3 separate regions of the Homo sapiens genome follow, and all the other regions are linked to region 3. Evidence: fine-mapped expression QTL. A gene starts in region 3. Each other region holds a variant in brackets. All regions are shown on one strand. Distances are from middle to middle.

Region 1 (6,026 bases), 25 kb after region 3:
CAGGCTGGAGTGCAATGGCACAATCTCAGCTCACTGCAACCTCTGCCTCCCGGGTTCAAGCAATTCTCCTCGCACCTCAGCCTTTTGAGTAGCTGGGATTACAGGCGCCCGCCATCATGCCCGGCTAATTTTTGCATTTTTAGTAGAGATAGAGTTTCACCATATTGGCCAGGCTGGTCTCGAACTCCTGACCTCATGATCTGCCCACCTAGGCCTCCCCAAGTGCTGGGATTACAGGTGTGAACCACTGCACCCAGCCCCAAATCCTGTTATCTAAAAGATGACAAAATTTGAGCCTAGGCAACATATCAAGACCCCATCTCTACAAATTTTTTTTAAGAAATAGCCAGGTGGCTGGGCGTGGTGCCTCACCCTGTAATCCCAGTACTTTGGGAGGCAAAGGTGGGTGGATTACGAGGTCAGGAGTTCAAGACCAGCCTGACCAATATACTAAAAATACAAAAATTAGCTGAGCATGGTGGCACACGCCTGTAGTCCCAGCTGCTTGGGAGGTTGAGGCAGGAGAATCACTTGGACCTGGGAAGTGGAGGTTGCAGTGAGCCGAGATCAAGCCACCGCACTCCAGCCTGGGTGACAGAGCGAGACTCCGTCTCAAAAAAAAAAAAAAAAAAAAGAAAAGAAAAGAGAAAAGAAATAGTAAGGCATGGTGGTGCATGCTTATAGTCCCAGCTACTCAGAAAGCTGAGGCAGGAAAATCACTTGAGCCCAGAGGTTCAAGCCTTCAGTGAGCTATGACTGCCACTGCATTCCATCCTGGGCAGCAAAGAGAGTCTCTGTCTCTACTGAAAAAAAAAAAAAAAAAAAAGAAAAGAAAAGAAAAAAAAAAGAAAAGAAAAAATTTGGAAATAAATTAAAAGTGCATAAAAGTTATTAAAATACTGCTAAATAGTAATAGATAATTTATCTTCCTCTTTACACTCTGCAGAAGAAACGGTGAATGGTACTTATTAGGCAATGTGTAAAGCACTTGACGTGTGTAATCTTATCACATCTGCACAAATGACACACGATCCAAAGAACATTTTTGGCTCCAACTTACAGATGAGTAAGCAAGCTCAGGGAGGATCTTTCCTGATAGATATTTAGCAGCAGAGAGGGCCAGGAATTGGGTTCTGTAATCTCAGTCTGTGCTCATTTTACTGGAAGCCACATGTGTAGATACTGGTATTATCTGAGCCTAATCCCTGGAATCTCTATGGTCAATTGGAGAGAGGCTTAGGGAGGTCAGGGGATAGACAGGTCTTGGCCAGAGTCCACCTCACAGTGGGTCAGGTAGGATCCCAGGCACACCGTGTGGCTATTTTGCCAGCCTTGCTGTCCTTATCCGAGGAATGCGGTCTGTCATGGTGGGAATGCCCAGTTAGAATCCTTGAAAGGGCCACCTACAACCAAGATAATAACCTAAAAACAATTCTGTGGAGGAAGACGCGGTCGTAGGTGCTGAGGATTTCTCGTTCAGACGCTCCTGCTCCTGACTTACCGCTGTTCACTCTCGCCGAGGAACAAGTCGGTCAGGAAGCCGCGCAGCAGCCTTGGCTTTTAAGGATACCGGAAAACACCCGTGGAGCCGGAGGTGGCCATTCACCAAATTCGAATCACCCTAACAAGCCGCAATGTAAAATCCCTGGAAAAGGTGTGTGATGACTTAATCAGAGGCGCAAAGGAAAAGAATCTCAAAGTGAAAGGACCAGTTCGAATGCCTGCCAAGACTTTGAGAATCACTACAAGAAAAACTACTTGTGGTGAAGATTCTAAGACCTGGGATCATTTCCAGATGAGAATTCACAAGCGACTCATTGACTTGCACAGTCCTTCTGAGATTGTTAAGCAGATTACTTCCATCAGTATTGAGCCAGGAGTTGAGGTGGAAGTTACCATTGCAGATGCTTAAGTCAACTATTTTAATAAATTGATTACCAGTTGTTAAAAAAAAAACAATTCTGTGCCTGATGACATTGCAGAAATTAGTTCCATAAAGATTTGAAAGATGCAGGGCTACTGATTTCCATAACACCATTATTACCTCACCTATTTGGTCAGTGCAAGAGGCAAATGTTGGTGGAGAATGAAGGTGGATTAACACAAACATATTCATGGGTTTGCTTATCCCGCCCACAGCACTTCCTCCAGCACCATATATTCATAGATTTACAAATGCTTATTCAATTGCAATGATGTCTTACATACAAATTATTTGTCCATGGGCATGTTTTCATGATAAAAGATGTTAAGCTATGGGCCATGGCTATGGAGTTCCTGCTTACTACATGCCACATCTCCTAGCAGCAGGCAGCTTCACAGAAGGTAGTGGAAAGACCTGCCGCAGCCTTAATTATGGTGGCAGTGTGGGCTCCACATCTACGACTTTACAATGTGTAGTGAACCTTTGGATACCTCTCAGAATTTCCCATCAGGACCTAAGCAGTGATTCCATGAGCTGCTAGAGTATGGACTGCTAATGATTCACAGGTGAAACCTCTTCCAAGAATGTCCTTGGCCCACAGGAACAGTCTTACCCAAGGTCATGCACCCTTCCCAGTGTAGGGACACACAGCCTGTTCTAAGGATATGTAATACTTCTGTCCATAATGGCAAGTGATGTTGCCTTTGGAAAAATGCTACAGTGAGAACAGCATTAGTGGGATGAGAGCACATCCAGGACCCACTGGGCTCCCTGAGCCCAGCCATGTGGTGTGGGTGAAGCAGTACAGGCGGGGAAAAGACCACTGCACTGAGGAAAAGAGCTGGCAGGGTCCAGCGTGCTTAAGAACAGTGTCCAGGCCAGGCACAGTGGCTCATGCCTGTAATCGCAGCACTTTGGGAGGCCGAGGCGGGCAGATCACGAGGTCAAGAGATCAAGATCATCCTGGGCCACATGGTGAAACCTCATCTCTATTAAAAATACAAAAATTAGCTGGGCATTGTGGCGTGTGCCTGTAGTCCCAGCTACTCGGGAGGCTGAGGCAGGAGAATCGCTTGAACCCGGGAGGTGGAGGTTGCAGTGAGCCAAGATCAAGTCCCTGCACTCCAGCCTGGCATCAGAGTGAGACTCCATCTTAAAAAAAAAAAAAAAAAA[G/AAG]CAGTGTCCGGCAGACTGTACAGACTGCACTCTGCTCAGGCCAGTTAGCTCTAATGATCCTTTTCAGCTACAAGTGCCAGTGACTGGCTACTCTGTAGAATGGGGTCATCAGGCATCAAAAGAGTCACATAATGGCATTACAAGATGGCCAGACATCCCTTGATCCCAGAGGAACATTTTGTGCCAGCACCTCCAGCTTCATGGAGGCATTGATACACCAAGTCCCTGAGGATGCCTGAAGCTGGTTCACAGATGGAGCCCGCTAAGTTACAGGCTGGCGGATTGTTCTTGGCCCTTGCAGCTGTGCAGCCACAGGGGAAAACAAAAGCTGTTTAAAATTTTGCACACAAAAAAAAGGTACTACCCAGTGGACAGAGTTGGGGACAGTGGTGGTTTTCCTGAAAAACCCCTCCAAAATGCTCCTTGCTGCTTTTTCATTGATTTAGAGACGGTAGCCAATGGGCTGGCAGTGCGGGCCTGTGCCTGGAAGCAAGACTAAATGATCAAGTCTCAATCCCTATGGCAGTGAACATTATGGTATCAGACTTTTTTTTTTTTTTCTGAGATGGAGTCTCCCTCTGTTGCCCAGGCTGGAGTGCAGTGGTACGATCTCAGCTCACTGCAGCCTCCATTTCCCAGGTTCAAGTGATTCTGTTGCCTCAGCCTCCCAAGTAACTGGGATTATAGGCTTGCACCACCGTGCCTGGCTAATTTTTTTTTTTTTTTGTATTTTTAGTAGAGACGGGGTTTTGCCATGTTGACCAGGCTGGTCTTGAACTCCTGACCTCAGGTGATCCACCATGCCTGGCTATTTTTTTTTTTTTTTATTAGAGATGAGATTTTTGCCATGTTGACCAGGCTGGTTTCGAACTCCTGACCTCAAGTGATCCACCGCCTCAGCCTCCCATGCTGGGATTACAGGCATGAGCCACCGCACCCAGCCTCAGATTTTATTAATACTACACCACTGCCCTCTGTTTTATGGATGTGGATGTCCATAGAAATAGCATGAGTGGAATTCAAAACCCAATCAGACTTGTGCCTTCCAGGTAAGGACAACTGAATACATCATCACAGAGGCCACGACATTCTGTCTACAGTGCAGGACTGGGACCCAAAGCAAAGATGAATGACTCCAGCACAGGAAGCCACCGAAGTCTGGTAAATGAGCCTGTCAGTCAAGGGGCAAAGAAAACTCCAGGGCACATATAAACTCAGGACACCAGATTCTGGCCAGTCCTGGCAAATAGGCTACATAACCTCCTAAATGCTCCACTTGGGGATGCAATTAAGCATTTCCTACAGTAGGCACCTTTCTGGGTATGGCATGGCAATGTAGGTCCTTACCACAGATAGGAGGTAGATGTAACATAAATTTAGGGACTCGCAGATGACCTGTGTTACATACTGAGATTCCCTGAATGTATCTCATCAAATGATGCGCATTTATAGTCAAGAGTACCCAACACTGGCCAACCACCTTGGACATTGCCAGGACATCTCAGGACCCTCATCACCCACAGGCAATAGATGCCATAAAAGGATGGAATGAGGCTGGGCGCCATGGCCCACACCTGTATCCCCAATACTTTGGGAGGCTGAGGCAGGTGGATCGCTTGAGACCAGCCTGGGCAACATGGTGAAACTCTGTCTCTACATAAAATACAAAAAATTATCCGGGTGTGGTGGTACACCCCTGTGGTCTCAGCTACTGGGAAGGCTGAGGTGAGAGGATCACCTGGGCCCAGGAGGTTGAGGCTGCAGGGTAAGCCGTGATTGAACCACTGCATTCCAGCCTGGGCGACAGAATGGGACCCGGTGTCAAAAAAAAAAAAAAAAAAAAAAAAGAGAGAGAGAGAGATGGATGCTTAAAGGAGAAGCTAAAAAGGGTACATAGAGAACCAAAGCTCAATTCTCAGTAGAGTACACACTTAAAACAGACAATATGGATTCTAAATGTGCCAATACCCCAAAAGGGAACTTCCTTTTTAAATAGAATCTGTGTGAGTTTGAGGAGTCGGGGAGGAGGCCCAGACTGTCTGTAAGAGACCCAAACCAACACAATATACTCTCCTTCTTCATTCCTCCTTTCCCTCCCACGCTCACCCCTGGGGAAACCAAACTATGCTGCTTTTTTCTTTTTTTTTTTTTTTTGAGACGGAATCTCACTCTGTCGCCAGGCTGGAGTGCAGTGGCGCAATCTCAGCTCACTGCAACCTCCGCCTCCTGGGTTCAAGCAATTCTCCTGCCTCAGCCTCCTGAGTAGCTGAGACTACAGGCGCCCACCACCACGCCCGGCTAATTTTTGTATTTTTAGTAGAGACGGGGTTTCACCATATCGGCCGGGCTGGTCACAAACTCCTGACCTCAGGTGATCCACCCACCTTGGCCTCCCAAAGTGCTGGTATTACAGGTGTGAGCCACAGCGCCCAGCATTTTTTTTTTTTTTTTTTTGACACGGGGTCTTGCTCTGTCGCCCAGGCTGGAGTGCAGTGGCACAATCTTGGCTCACTGCAACCTCCGCCTTCCTGGTTCTAGAGATTCTCCTGCCTCAGCCTCCGAGTAGCTGGGACTGTAGCTGGGACTATAGGCGTTTGCCACCATACCCGGCTAAATTTTAGGTATTTTTGGTAGAGACGGGGTTTCTCCATGTTAGCCAGGATGGTCTTGATCTCCTGACCTCGTGATCCACCTGCCTCGGCCTCCCAAAATGCTGGGAATACAGGTATAAGCCACCATGCCCAGCCTAACCTGATGCTGCTTTTACTGTCCAGTTATGCTTCCTGGATCTGGGCAATTATAGATACTGATGATATTGATCATGAGTATGAAGTGACGACTCCCAAAGTGGTCCCGGCATGGCACACTATGTGAGGGAGTGGAAGATGTTCTAGATGGCACAAGTTGCAAACACACACACGCACACACA
Region 2 (6,026 bases), 63 kb before region 3:
CTAGATTTAATAATTTCTGGATGTAAGAAGGTAAAACATAATTTCCTCTATATATGCACGATCACACCCTTGTTGGGATCTGGGGCAGCAGCCCACAGTCAAACACATTGACATTCCTGCAGCCAACATATGAATATTCATTCACACGAAGTGGCTACATAGGGACAGCAAATAACCTCCTGTCCAGGCCTATCAAGGTTTTCCATCAAATGAGTTTGGAAAACCCCCTAGATTTTTGGACCTAGGGAGCAAGGATGAGAGATGTTGCATCGGCATCTATGGCAGCTAAAGATCGAGCACCAGGACCCTTGGAGAGGGACAGAAAGAGAGGCAAGAACGGAGCCCCGGGAACAACCAGGTAGGATGGAGACAGGAGAGGACCCAGCAGAGAAGACCAAGAGGAAGCAGGCAGAGGAGCGGAAGAGGAGGAAGAGAAAGGCTGGCCCAAGCCCCTGGAGCAGGCACTGTGCTGCAGAAAGGCAGAAGGAGAGAAGGCCCCAGTGCCCCCTACACTAGGCAATAGGTCAGAGGAGGCCTTGGCTGGCCGATGAGATGTCAGTGGTGAGATAGGGCAGGAGTCAGGAGGGAGAGGAGGGTGCAGACGTGGGAACAGCCTATGAAAGACAACCCTTGCAGGAGTCTTAGCCAAGAAAGAAATGACTTCAGGGCAAGTAGCCAGACTGATGGGCAAGAAACCCAGCAGGGCTGAAGGACCAGAGTCTCAATGAGCAGCAAAGAGGCCACAGGAAGGAAAGTGGGTTAAAAGACAATGGTGTGGGACGGTTGCGGTGGCTTATACCTATAACCCCAGCACTTTGGGAGGCTGAGGCAGGCGGATCACTTGAGGTCAGGAGTTTGAGACCAGCCTGGACAATATGGTGAAAACCTGTCTCTACTAAAATACAAAAATTAGACAGGCATGGTGGCAGGCACCTGTAGTCCCACCTATTCAGGAGGCTGAGGCAGAAGAATCGCTTGAAGCCAGGCGGTGGAGTTTGCAGTGAGCCGAGATCCTGCCACTGCACTCCAGCCTGGATGACAGAGTGAGACACCATCCCAAAACAAGCAAGCAAAAAAAGACAATGGTTTGTGTCCACCAAAAGACGTGTGCAAAATGCCACATCATCTTTATCCAACATCGTCGCAAACTGAAAACAACCCAAATGTTCAACAGTTCCAGAATGGGTCAATAAATGGTGACGTGTCGACCCAGTGGAATCAGCAATGAAGAAAAACCAAACATGCTACCCACAATAACATGCGTGAATCTTACAGACCCAGCAGTGGGCATAGGAATTCATGTACATCACTGTATGTACCTCCTACCTGAATTTAAAACCATGAAAGATGATAAAATGTAAGGTTTCAGATGTGGAGCAGCCTGGGAGATGACAAGGTCCAAGGTGTCACCAACAGTTCACATGGGTTATTCTAAAACAGTTACAGAAGACTATTTTTGAAAGTGGATGGGGCTGTACTATTTTTTCACAGACTCTGCCCTATGAGGCTGCCAGTCCCAGCTGCCCCTTCTCCAACTGTCCCCAATTCTGCTCCCTGACTCCATTGCAGCTTCCCCCGTGGACACTAGACCCTGGACTCTCACTCACTCACACTCAGACATGCACACCACACCGCACAGCACCCCACACCGCACACTGCACACCCTCACAAGGGCCAGACCTGGATAAAGATGTGAGTGAAACAGCACGTGGGGAAGCAGACCAGGAAGTCTCTACTGAAGGCCTCTCTATTGGGTCAAGCTGGTTGTGCCAAGCTCCTTTTGCCCTTGGGATGAGCTCCTTCCCAGGCGGCTTTTCCAGCTGTCACACCAGCTTGACTTCTGAGAACTCTCCCTCTCCCTCTGTCCACACACCAGTCACTCCAGAGCCTGAATGCATGTGACACAGGACATACAGGGAAGGCCATAGGAAACAATGAACAGTAGCTGCCTGGCACCGCAGCTATTGTTCATTATTGAATTAATGAATTATCATCATCCAAAATGGTTAAAATGTTCCCGTCTTCATTTTCTCTTCAATAAGTTATGTCTGAATTGATTTTTTTTTTTGAGTCAGAGTCTCGTTCTGTCACCCAGACTGGAGTGCAGTGGCACGATCTCGGCTCACCGCCACCTCTGCCTCCTGGGTTCAAGCGATTCTCCTGCCTCAGCCTCCCGAGTAGCTGAGATTACAGGTGCATACCACCACACCCAGATAATTTTTGTATTTTTAAGTAGAGACGGGGTTTCACCATGTTGGCCAGGCTGGTCTCGAACTCTGTACCTCAAGTGATCCGCCCGCCTTGACCTCCCAAAGTGCTGGGATTATAGGCGGGAGCCACTGCGCCCGGCCGTCTGAATTGATTTTTAAAGAAGATAGGTTGGAGAGACCTGAGAGTGGCAGCTCTGTAGGAGTGACAGTTCACAGAAGTCTCAAATTCACACTCAGCAGGCAGAAGCAGTGCCTGTCTGTGAGAAGCTGAGAGTTCCCTCGGAGGGCGGCTCCTGGGGGGTTCTGGGCAGCACAAGCTAAGCCCTGTGCGGAGATTCTAGGTCGGCAGGAGAGTGACCTAATTAAACACACAGGCTTATTCTTAGACGAGGAGCCCCAGTTAAGGCCCCTGGGTAAGCACAGCACAAAGGCACAGCCCTAGAGGTGACCGGAATAATTCTCATTTTTAAGTAGCAGCCACTTTTTTTTATTATAAAAGTAGTACACATTCATCGTAGAATGTTTAGAAAATATAGAAAGTACAGGAAAGGAAATGCTCTCTACTAGAAATAACCGCTATTTTTGCTTATTTCCTTCCTGGTCTTCTTTTTATACATATTTACTTATTTGACGACTGAGGGGAAATGTTTATTCACAAGTGTAAGTGAAAAAAATATATAAAATTATAAACGGCACAATCCTAAATTTGTTCTGCAAATTAGGACTGTTATACATATGCAGTTCTGTGTCCTGTTTGTTTCATTCAATATTAAAAACCAACATCTCCTTTATGTCATTAAATATTCAGCAACTTGATTTTTAATGGCTTCATAATGTCCATCACATAGAATAGTGTATACACTGTTGCCCTGTAATGGGGCATTTAGGTGGCTTCCAATTTTTCAAATAACTCTACCATGAACCTCCCTGTGTATTTTTAATTATTATCTTGAGCTGATTTCTAGAAGTGAAAATTATTTAGAACTCTTGTTTTGCATTGCCAAATAACTTCCTGAAAATCCCCAGCTATTGGCACTTCCACATCATATAGAAAGTA[C/T]AGAAAAGTCCCTAAGTGTGGGACATCTTGGTTCCTGTAAAAACAACCTGAGGTTCCTTTTTTTTTTTTTTTTTTGAGACAGAGTTTCGCTCTCATTGCCCAGGCTGGAGTGGAATGGTGCGACCTCAGCTCACTGTAACCCCCACCTCCTAGGTTCAAGTAATTCTCCTGCCTCAGCCTCCCAAGTAGCTGCGATTACAGGCATGCACTGCCACGCCTGGCTAATTTTGTATTTTTAGCAGAGGTGGGGCTTCACCATGTTGGTCAGGCTGGTATCAAACTCCTGGCCTCAGGTGATCCACCTGCCTTGGTCTCCCAAAGTGCTGTGATTACAGCTCAGCTTCTTTATCAACGGACAGCTGATCCAGATCAAACAGAGGACACTGCGAGCAAGGAACCAGATCCTCAGAGCCGTCTGGTGCTTTGTGACTGAGCACAGCCAACACTGTCTCCTAGCAGGAGTCACCTTTCACCAGGTTAGGCTGCTGTAACCAACAACTCCAGAATTTTAGGGGATTACAGCAAGCACGGTTTATTTCTCACACACATCATTCAAAGATGTGGGTCAACTGTGGCTTTATTCCATGTCTTCTTAGTCTGAGACCCAAGCTGAAGGAACAGCCCAGCTCCTATCTCCAACCTCATGGTCACGGACAAAGACACAAAGCAGAAGTCCACAATGGTCTTTAGAGCTTTGACTTGGACTTGGCGTGTACAACTCCCACCCTCTTCCAAGCCTAAAGCCAAGGAAGCAAGGGAATACACTCCTCCCATGGGAAGGTGCTCCAGGTCCCGCGGCCTGGGGTGATACAGACAGATCCTGTTACAGAGTGGACAGAAGAGAACTGGGAACAAGGATACAATCTGCCACAGCTATGAGCAGTTGGAAACGATGCTTAGTGTTCATCGTCACTAAATCTGACGTCAGGAATCTCTGGCACCCAGAATACCACCTCATACTGGAAAATCCCATGCCCTAGAAGCCTTCTCCAATGGCTGATGAGAAGGATCACCTAGGTTTGACTTTTGTGCCAATAAAAGGAAAAAAATAAAATATACGTGTGTTGTGTGTGTTTATGAACATATATTTATAAGTAGCTCCATGTAAAATAGTGAAGGTATATGCTGTTAAATTTTTAAAAGGCAAAAGTAAAATTATATGTATGACAGGCTACCATTTATTTATTGTTTGTTTGTTTGTTTGTTTTTGTGAGACAGAGTCTCACTCTGTCGCCCAGGCTGCAGTGCAGTGACGCAATCTCAGCTCACTGTAACCTCCACGTCCCAGGTTCAAGCGATTCTACTGCCTCAGCCTCTCGAGTAGCTGGAATTACAGGCACCCGCCACCATGCACAGCTAATTTTTGTATTTTTAGTAGAAACGGGGTTTCATCATGTTGGCCAAGCTGGTCTCGAATTCCTGATCTCAAATGATCCACCCACCTCAGTCTCCCAAAGTGCTGGGATTATAGGCGTGAGCAACAGCGTCCAGCCTATCATTTATTTTTTTTATTGGGGGAGAATACATATACATTTCTGTTTATATACACATAAAACATTTCCCAAAAGATCAATAAGAAGCTGGTGACAGTGGCTATTTTAGGAACAAGAACTAAGGGACTGAAAGTGGGGAGGAAGGCTTGCTTTTCACTGTATACTCTTCTTATAACTTGGATTTTTTTTCCTTTTGTTTAGATTATCTTTTCCAAGAAATTTGTTCTCATTAAAAATTTTAAAAATTGTCCTTTCTCACGCACATCACATATCTCTCTGTCTATGCTTCCTTCATTGCTCCCACATTGGGACATGCCCTGAATTCCCATTCCTACAGCCTGAGAAAGCAGAGTTTCCAGAAAGCACTAGAAAATCCAAGAAGAACAAATACCAAGATCTACAAAGCAAAAAAAGAGCTCATGCTCCAACAGGCCAACCCGCTTCCTGTGGTTGTACAGACCACACTCCCTCACCACTGGCCTGATAAGCCCCTTTGAGTAAGGTGAGATCTGCAGATAGGGCTGAACTCTTGCGTGAGTCAGGAGTCTTTGCAGCAAAGGGGGTGGAGAGAGGGGAAGGAAAGGAAGAGACAGAAAGAGAGCAGCAACACGTGCAAAGGAAGCCAGGACTGGATGAGATGGAGGCCACTGGTGCCCCCAAGATCAGGGACTCTACAGATGGGGCTGCCTACCATACCATAGGCTGCCGAGACCTCTCCTCTGTCTTCTTCACATGCCCACTCCTGCTCCAAACCTCCCATACACCACATGCTTGCTGTGAAGAGATCCCTTTGCAGAAATCTCAAGGGCTGACATTTTTACCATCTGGAGGCGTGGAACCAGGACAGCACCCATAGGAACAGGAGCTAAAGTCAGAGATAACATGAGGGCATGGTGTCTAGGGAAATGGTGGAAATTCTGAGGAGTACTTTGGATTTCTAGAAGGCATTGAATTTGGAGTGCAAGCCAAGCTTATGTCTAAATAAGCCTAGAGCCCACAGTGGTCACTGGGTTTCACAAGCAAAGGTCATGAATATAGAATGTTCTTGCATGAGTGGTGGCGAGGTTGGTCTGCATCACTGGTCATCTGCTGTGAATTTTTTCAGGGGAAGCTCACATCCTCGGAGGCCTTCGCCTCACCCTAGAAAGATACAAAATGCCCTGGAGAAATGCTGTATTCACAGCACATTTGCACAGGACACTGTGTCAGTCACTGATCTGGAACACTTTGCTTGCTTACCTCCTTGAGCTATTGGTGCAATAACCA
Region 3 (6,026 bases):
TTCCTGAGAAAAATGCATTTATCCTCACTGTAACTCAGTCCTATGCCAACATAATCCCTTGTCAACATTTATTTTGCAGCCAGCAAGACTTCTTGATAAAAGAAATGCAAACTGGGTCACTTAAAAGGGATTTTCAAATGGACAGGAAATTAAATGGCTGCCTGAAGTTTTTTTGGGGGGCGGGCCAAAAACTACCTTTAACTGGTTCTTTTCAACTATTCTGAGAAATTGGAGTCAAGTCACTATGGGAGGCAGAGTCCTCATCTAGAAGCTTATAAACTGGTTATGATAATCAGCACGGCAGAGACCCATTTAACTGGCAGCTTAGTTAAAAAAGCCACAGGGGACACTGTCTTGAACTCCAAGTTTACGTATTATATTAGCCTGAATATAACAGTGGTTTAAACAAATAATGTGTATACAGCTACACAAAACCACGCAAAATAAATTTCCTTATTTTTTTGCTCCCAGTTTCTCCTACTTCTTGGCACATCATAGTATTCAATTTTTCCTTCCTGACTGCCCTCTTGAGTATTAAAAACTCGCTTTCAGAGAACTCCACAACATACAAGAAATGCACAGAACAAAGAGCTTTTTAAAATTTTCCAAGGCCGCATACCTATACACCAATCACATCTGCAAAAGTACCACTGGGTTTGAAATCGATTGGGTGTGCTCCATGAAAGGTCTTCATACGGGGGAGAAAGGTTACCTTATGGAGGATGAATGCACGAACCAGGAAGAATAAAATTCCAGACATAATTCCAGAAAGCAGTGGGGACACGAACCAAGACATCACTGGAATAGAACACATTAAGAAAAAATATCAAATAATGAAAATCAGAAACCAAAAACCACTTTAAATGTTTAAGAGTTCAAAATTCTTGGGTCTGTCCCTCGACGTTAGAACACATCCTCCCATACCTAATGCCATGGTAACATATGACGAAAACGAAAATTAAGAAGCCGTTTGGAATTAAACATACCAATTTTTATCAGTTCAGACCACTTGACACCCTCCTGCCCCTTTGCCACGAGGGAGAAACCAATAGTTGCACCAACAATACAATGGGTTCCAGAAATAGGGAGCTTCAAAAACGAAGCCACGAGTTGCCACACAGCAGAACCTGAAACATAGTAAAGTTTTATTAAGTAAATATCAAAATTCCATTATGTAAGTGGCACATTCAGAAAGGTTAATCGGAAAGGTTATGCACAAAAATGGAACCACCCATGATACAAATTTGCTCACCCACCACGAAGAGGACAAAACATAAAAAGAACTTACCAAACATAGCACTGACTGAGCCGGCCATCAGCAGCCCTTGAGTCGAGTTGTACATCTCCACGTCAATCAAGCCCTTCCGGATGGTTTCGCTCACTTTGGCCCCCAGTAAGACAGAGCCCACTGTTTCAAAGATGCTAGCTAGGATGCAGGCTTGCTTCAGGGTCACTACACCTGAGCCCACAGCTGTACCAAAAGAATTTGCTACATCATTGGCTCCCACGGAGAATGCCAAGACAAATGCAATAATGAAGCCCAGGATGAGCATCCATAGGTAGTCCACCAAAGGACCAGAAGCGGCGGTAGCAGCTGTAGTACTGGTAATCAGCGTTGCCATTCTCTGGAGTAGTGGTTGTTTAGTAAGAGAACTACTGAGCGCCTTTCAAGATGTGTAAACAGAATATGAGGTATCAAAAATGCTATAATAAATAATATATATTATATAAAATTAAATACTGTAAACTACGGCACAGAAACCGAGCTGGGGAGTTACTGCTATACGCTGCGTATGGGCATCTGTTGTCTGGGGTTTCTTTGGCTCAGGAGGGCTAAAAGCACGGAGCAGAATTCCATGGCGGAGAAGAGAAAGGACGCAAGTTCATCCTGCGGGGGAGGGGGGAAATAACAATAGCTGCGTGCCCCTGGGGGGCCAGTGGGGCACCCCGCTCTACCCACGCGCCCGGGGTCCCGCAATAGCCTCTGCCGGCTACTCCAGACCCCCATCCCCAGTAGGACGCGCGAGAAGGAGAGGCACGTGGCTCCGGGTCCTCCGCGGCCCGCGCGCGCCCAGCCCAGCCCCTGCGCTGCCAGCCCGCGCGCGCCCTCCGCGCGAAAATCGGAAAAGGGCCGTTCCCGCGCGCGCCGCCCGGGGACCGCCAAAAAGGCCCGCGGGCGGGCAGACGGGCGGAGTGGAGGCGGCCAGCGGCGAAGAGAGAAGCCAGCCGCGCCGCCCACGGCGTCCGCCTCCAGCGCCACGGCGTCCGCGCCCGGCCCCGGGGAGAAGAAAGAGCCTTTACGAGGCGGCGCCACTACTCACCAGGGAAAAGGGAGGGCGGAGCGGGAGACGAGGAGATCGAGGCGACAGCGGCTGGAGCCACGGGCACACGGCCCGGGTCGGCGGCACCGGGGACAGCTCAGCGGGACTCACGACCTTCCCAGGAAGCAGCCGCGGGGGTTTCAGCGGCCGAGAAGAAGAACCACGCAGAGAGCGCCGGCAGCCATCACTCCAGCGGAGCACCCCGCCGGCCCCTACTTATAGCCCGCGCAGCGACCCGCGTGACCCCGCCGCGCCTCGCGCCGGCCCCGAAGCCCCGCCCCCGGCATGACGCAGCCCTCCTCGGCCCGGCGTGCCCAGCCGGGTGAGCCCGACGGTGGCGCTCATTGGCCCGGCCCGCTTCGGCGGCCACGCCCCCAGCGGGGAGCCGGTCCACGTGGGGCGGGACAGCCCCCTCCCTGCGGCCTCGCCCTGGAGTCTCGGCACCGTCTGGCCCCGCCGGCTGATTACAGCCAGAGATCGAGGGGGACCTCGCTGTCCCCCTAGAGGCCGTCATGCGGGGTTACAGAGGCTGCGACCAAAGTCATTCCTAGCTCCTCTCTCGGGGCTCCGGAAAGCCGTCCGCGCCTCCAGCCGCACTTTCAGCGCACGCAGGACCTGCCGCGCCCGGTGGCCACACCCGTCCCTCTGCCGGGTGACGCTGCGGGAGATCTTGCGCCCTGGGGCTCCGGATCCAGTTCTGGCACGTTGTTGCACCTGTGACTTGTCCTTGGCCTGGCACTGTCCCTCGCCTGGGGGAAGCGGGGGGGTGGGGGGGGGATGCTCACGTGGTCGCTTTGCTCCCGCAGTCATGCACTTGGGTGAAAACAGACTGAAGAGTCACGGGAACCAGCTTGTCTCCCCAGTTATGGCGCAGAGCTGCAAGGATGGCTGTGGGTCATTAATTTCTCCGTGGCTGACCTGTGTTTGTAACGCCGCAGCTGTTGCGAGGGGGAAGGACACTGCTTCGGATTCAAATTCTGACTCCTTGCTGCAGTGTGTCACCTTGAGCCAGTCCCAGATCTCTGCGTTCTCACAATTGTAAAATGTTAACAGAGGCTGCCTACCTTGTGGCTGGAATTAAATGAATTAACGTGTGTGAATGTGACTAGAATTCAGTACATGTTCAGGAAAAGCTGATTTCCGCTTTGCTGTTACCGTGAATATTACTGTTTTAGGGTGTAGAAAAGGGTGGAAGGGGATGTTATTGCATCCTGGAAGCTTATCCTTTTGAGGTAAAGATTGATTTCTGGTCCCCTGCGTGGTATATAGTGTAGTTTTGACATTATTTAGATGTGTTATGCACATTTGGGTGTTGATTATATGGCTTACGATCAAGACTAACCAGTCATGCCGTGGGAGATTAAGGTCGTGGTCTCTTGTCAGGATTGTAGTGAGATTTAAAAATTCCAGCCAGAAATACCAGGCTTAGAATGCTCTGAAGCCCTCCCCACATTTTTGCCATCTCTAGCAGGAGGGCACTGCATAGCAGAAACAAAGACGTTGTAAATTGTTGCTGCCTGAGTCATTTATAGAGGCTTAAACAACCTGAATGTCCTCTGACCTACCTGTAACATTTGATGGAGTTGTATGAGTAACTTACAAAGCTGTAGGTCCCAAGGTCGGTCTGAAAAAGAAAGTTCATATCCGGGAGCACTGACCCCGTAGTGTAATCCTGGCACCTTAAAACGTACTGCTCCCTCCACCTTCACTTCAAGGTTATGAAAACATTGAGTAAAAGGGATGATCTGTTCAAAGTCCTTAGTGTTCTGCCAATTTAAAACAGTAATTTTCAAAGCAGTTATTTGCAAGGAAATTGCCTAGAACTTCTCCCAGTGTGCGGTTGTTTTGTGTGTTTGTGTGTGTGTTTTGTTTGTTTGTTTTCAGTCTGTCCACAGGCGTACTTTTATAGGTCTGTGATAGTAGGTAGCTCTTCAAGTTGGCAAACACCTGCTGGACAACCCCTGAGAGATTCATCTGAGTGAGAGAGCACTCTCCAGCCCCATCGGAGTGGGTTTGCAGGGAAATCATAAGGTAGAGATTCAAAGGAATTCCCTTGCGTTGCAAATGAAAACTGTATCTTCAGACTCTGATATAGTGTAATCCTTCCTTTTTAGGAAGAAATCCTTATCTTTCCAACACTGAGATGCTTCTGCCGAAGAGTAGAATGGGAGGTGAGGAATTGGGGTGGGCCCTCACTGCTTTGCCTCCGGATCAGTAGGGTACAGCCCTTGGAGACCAGGATCTTCCTTGGCTGGGACACCTTCGTCCTCCCCTAAGGGAGGAGAGGTAGGGATCTGCCTGTGGAAAGAAGTTACAGTGCCTTTTAAATAGAAATAGGAGGTAGGAGGACCGTCAGTTGTCAGTTCGTGCACAAATGGCATTGTTTCTGGCCTTATCTCTGAATGCTGAGGAAACAGGTCAGAGATCCTAAAGAGAATCTAATCTCTTAGAATCCAGGCATTGGCACAAACCCCCTCTAGCATCTTAGGGAGGTGGTTTGGTGTAGTGGTTAAACACATAGACTGTAAGACCAAACCACCTGCTCTGTCACTCACTAGTCCTGTGACCATAGGCAAATAAATTATCTGCCTCAGTTTCCTGATCTGTAAAGGGGTGAGATTGAGACTTCTAACTCACAGTGCTGTTGTGAGGACCAAATGAATGAATATATGTAAAGCCCTTGTAAAAGGGCTCTTATTCTCTTTGTTCAATAACTAGCTGAAGGCCTGTCATACATAGCCCATGTTTAAAATGAAGTATGTGTCAGATGTCAGGACCACCCTCTTCTCCCTGCCCTCTGATCCAAGCCCTTTCAAATTTCTCCCACGGCTCATAGTGAGGGGACACGCAAAACGGGCTGCTGCCGGAGGAAGAGGAACAGTGTTGTGGCTCATGCCATATGAATGGGCTCACTGGCCTGGCCCAGACCCTGACTGCCCACAGGATCTTTGGTGAGTCACTGTCACTGAGCCTGTGAGCCTAGGGTCCCTCTCCAACCTCACCCTCAGAGAGGACAGAACAAGATGACCTGTGGCATGCTGCAGAACACCATGTTGGGGACTGTGGGTTTAGAGTCCTCTTGGGGACATGTCCATCGTTCACTAATTCGGTGGAGTTGAGCTGCTGAGAGCTAGGAAAGCTACTCTCCCCCCGGATCCCAACCTAGCCCTGTGGAAGACCAGACAAAAGAAGGAAGCAATGACATTTCTGCACTTTTTAGTTCAGAGAGGCACAGTCAAGGAAATGCATTTGAGGTCACTGTTCGATGTACTTGAAGTACTCATCCTGGAAATAGTCTACTTGGAGTAGAGGGAGCTCAAGTGGGCATGGGAACGTTGTGGAACCAGACCAGGAACAAAGGCGGCTTCAGAGGCCGTCTGTGAGGACTTGCATGGGAGCAGGGGCGAGAACATCCAGGGAAGAGAAGGTAGGAGCCTTGGAGTAAAGGAGAACCAGCTCCTCTCCACCCACCAATGCCCTCCCCATCCCCAGATGAATGAGGTAATAATAATACCTGTAGCTGGACATGGTGGCTCAAGCTTGTAATCCCAGCATTTTGGGAGGCCAAGGCGGGTGGATCACCTGAGGACGGGAGTTCGAGACCAGCCTATCAACATGGAGAAACCCTGTCTCTACTAAAAATACAAAAATTAGTTGGGCACGGTGGTGCATGGCTGTAATCCCAGCTACTTGGGAGGCTGAGGC

The links. PIP is the estimated chance that this variant, and not a neighbour inherited with it, causes the effect.
Region 1: its variant is fine-mapped to the expression of SLC20A1 in whole blood (INTERVAL, PIP above 0.99).
Region 2: its variant is fine-mapped to the expression of SLC20A1 in whole blood (TOPMed, PIP above 0.99).

What each region holds. Positions count from the first base shown.
Region 1 is chr2:112,617,695-112,623,720 of GRCh38, reverse strand. It overlaps the pseudogene RPS20P11. Among named protein-coding and RNA genes, the nearest start is that of SLC20A1-DT, 23 kb to the left of the region's middle. The variant G/AAG (reference allele first, on the strand shown) is at 3,098.
Region 2 is chr2:112,705,645-112,711,670 of GRCh38, reverse strand. No RefSeq gene overlaps it. Among named protein-coding and RNA genes, the nearest start is that of NT5DC4, 12 kb to the left of the region's middle. RefSeq lists an enhancer at 3,119-3,298. The variant C/T (reference allele first, on the strand shown) is at 3,268.
Region 3 is chr2:112,642,425-112,648,450 of GRCh38, reverse strand. It overlaps SLC20A1 (solute carrier family 20 member 1), which reads right to left and starts at 2,512. Exons shown (of 11, transcript NM_005415.5): 1 at 2,322-2,512; 2 at 1,289-1,888; 3 at 987-1,127; 4 at 713-798. The coding sequence starts at 1,622. SLC20A1-DT (SLC20A1 divergent transcript) reads left to right here and starts at 4,271. Exons shown (of 5, transcript NR_033871.1): 1 at 4,271-4,352; 2 at 4,436-4,492; 3 at 5,158-5,272. RefSeq lists silencers at 1,265-1,559, 2,021-2,850 and an enhancer at 5,490-6,026.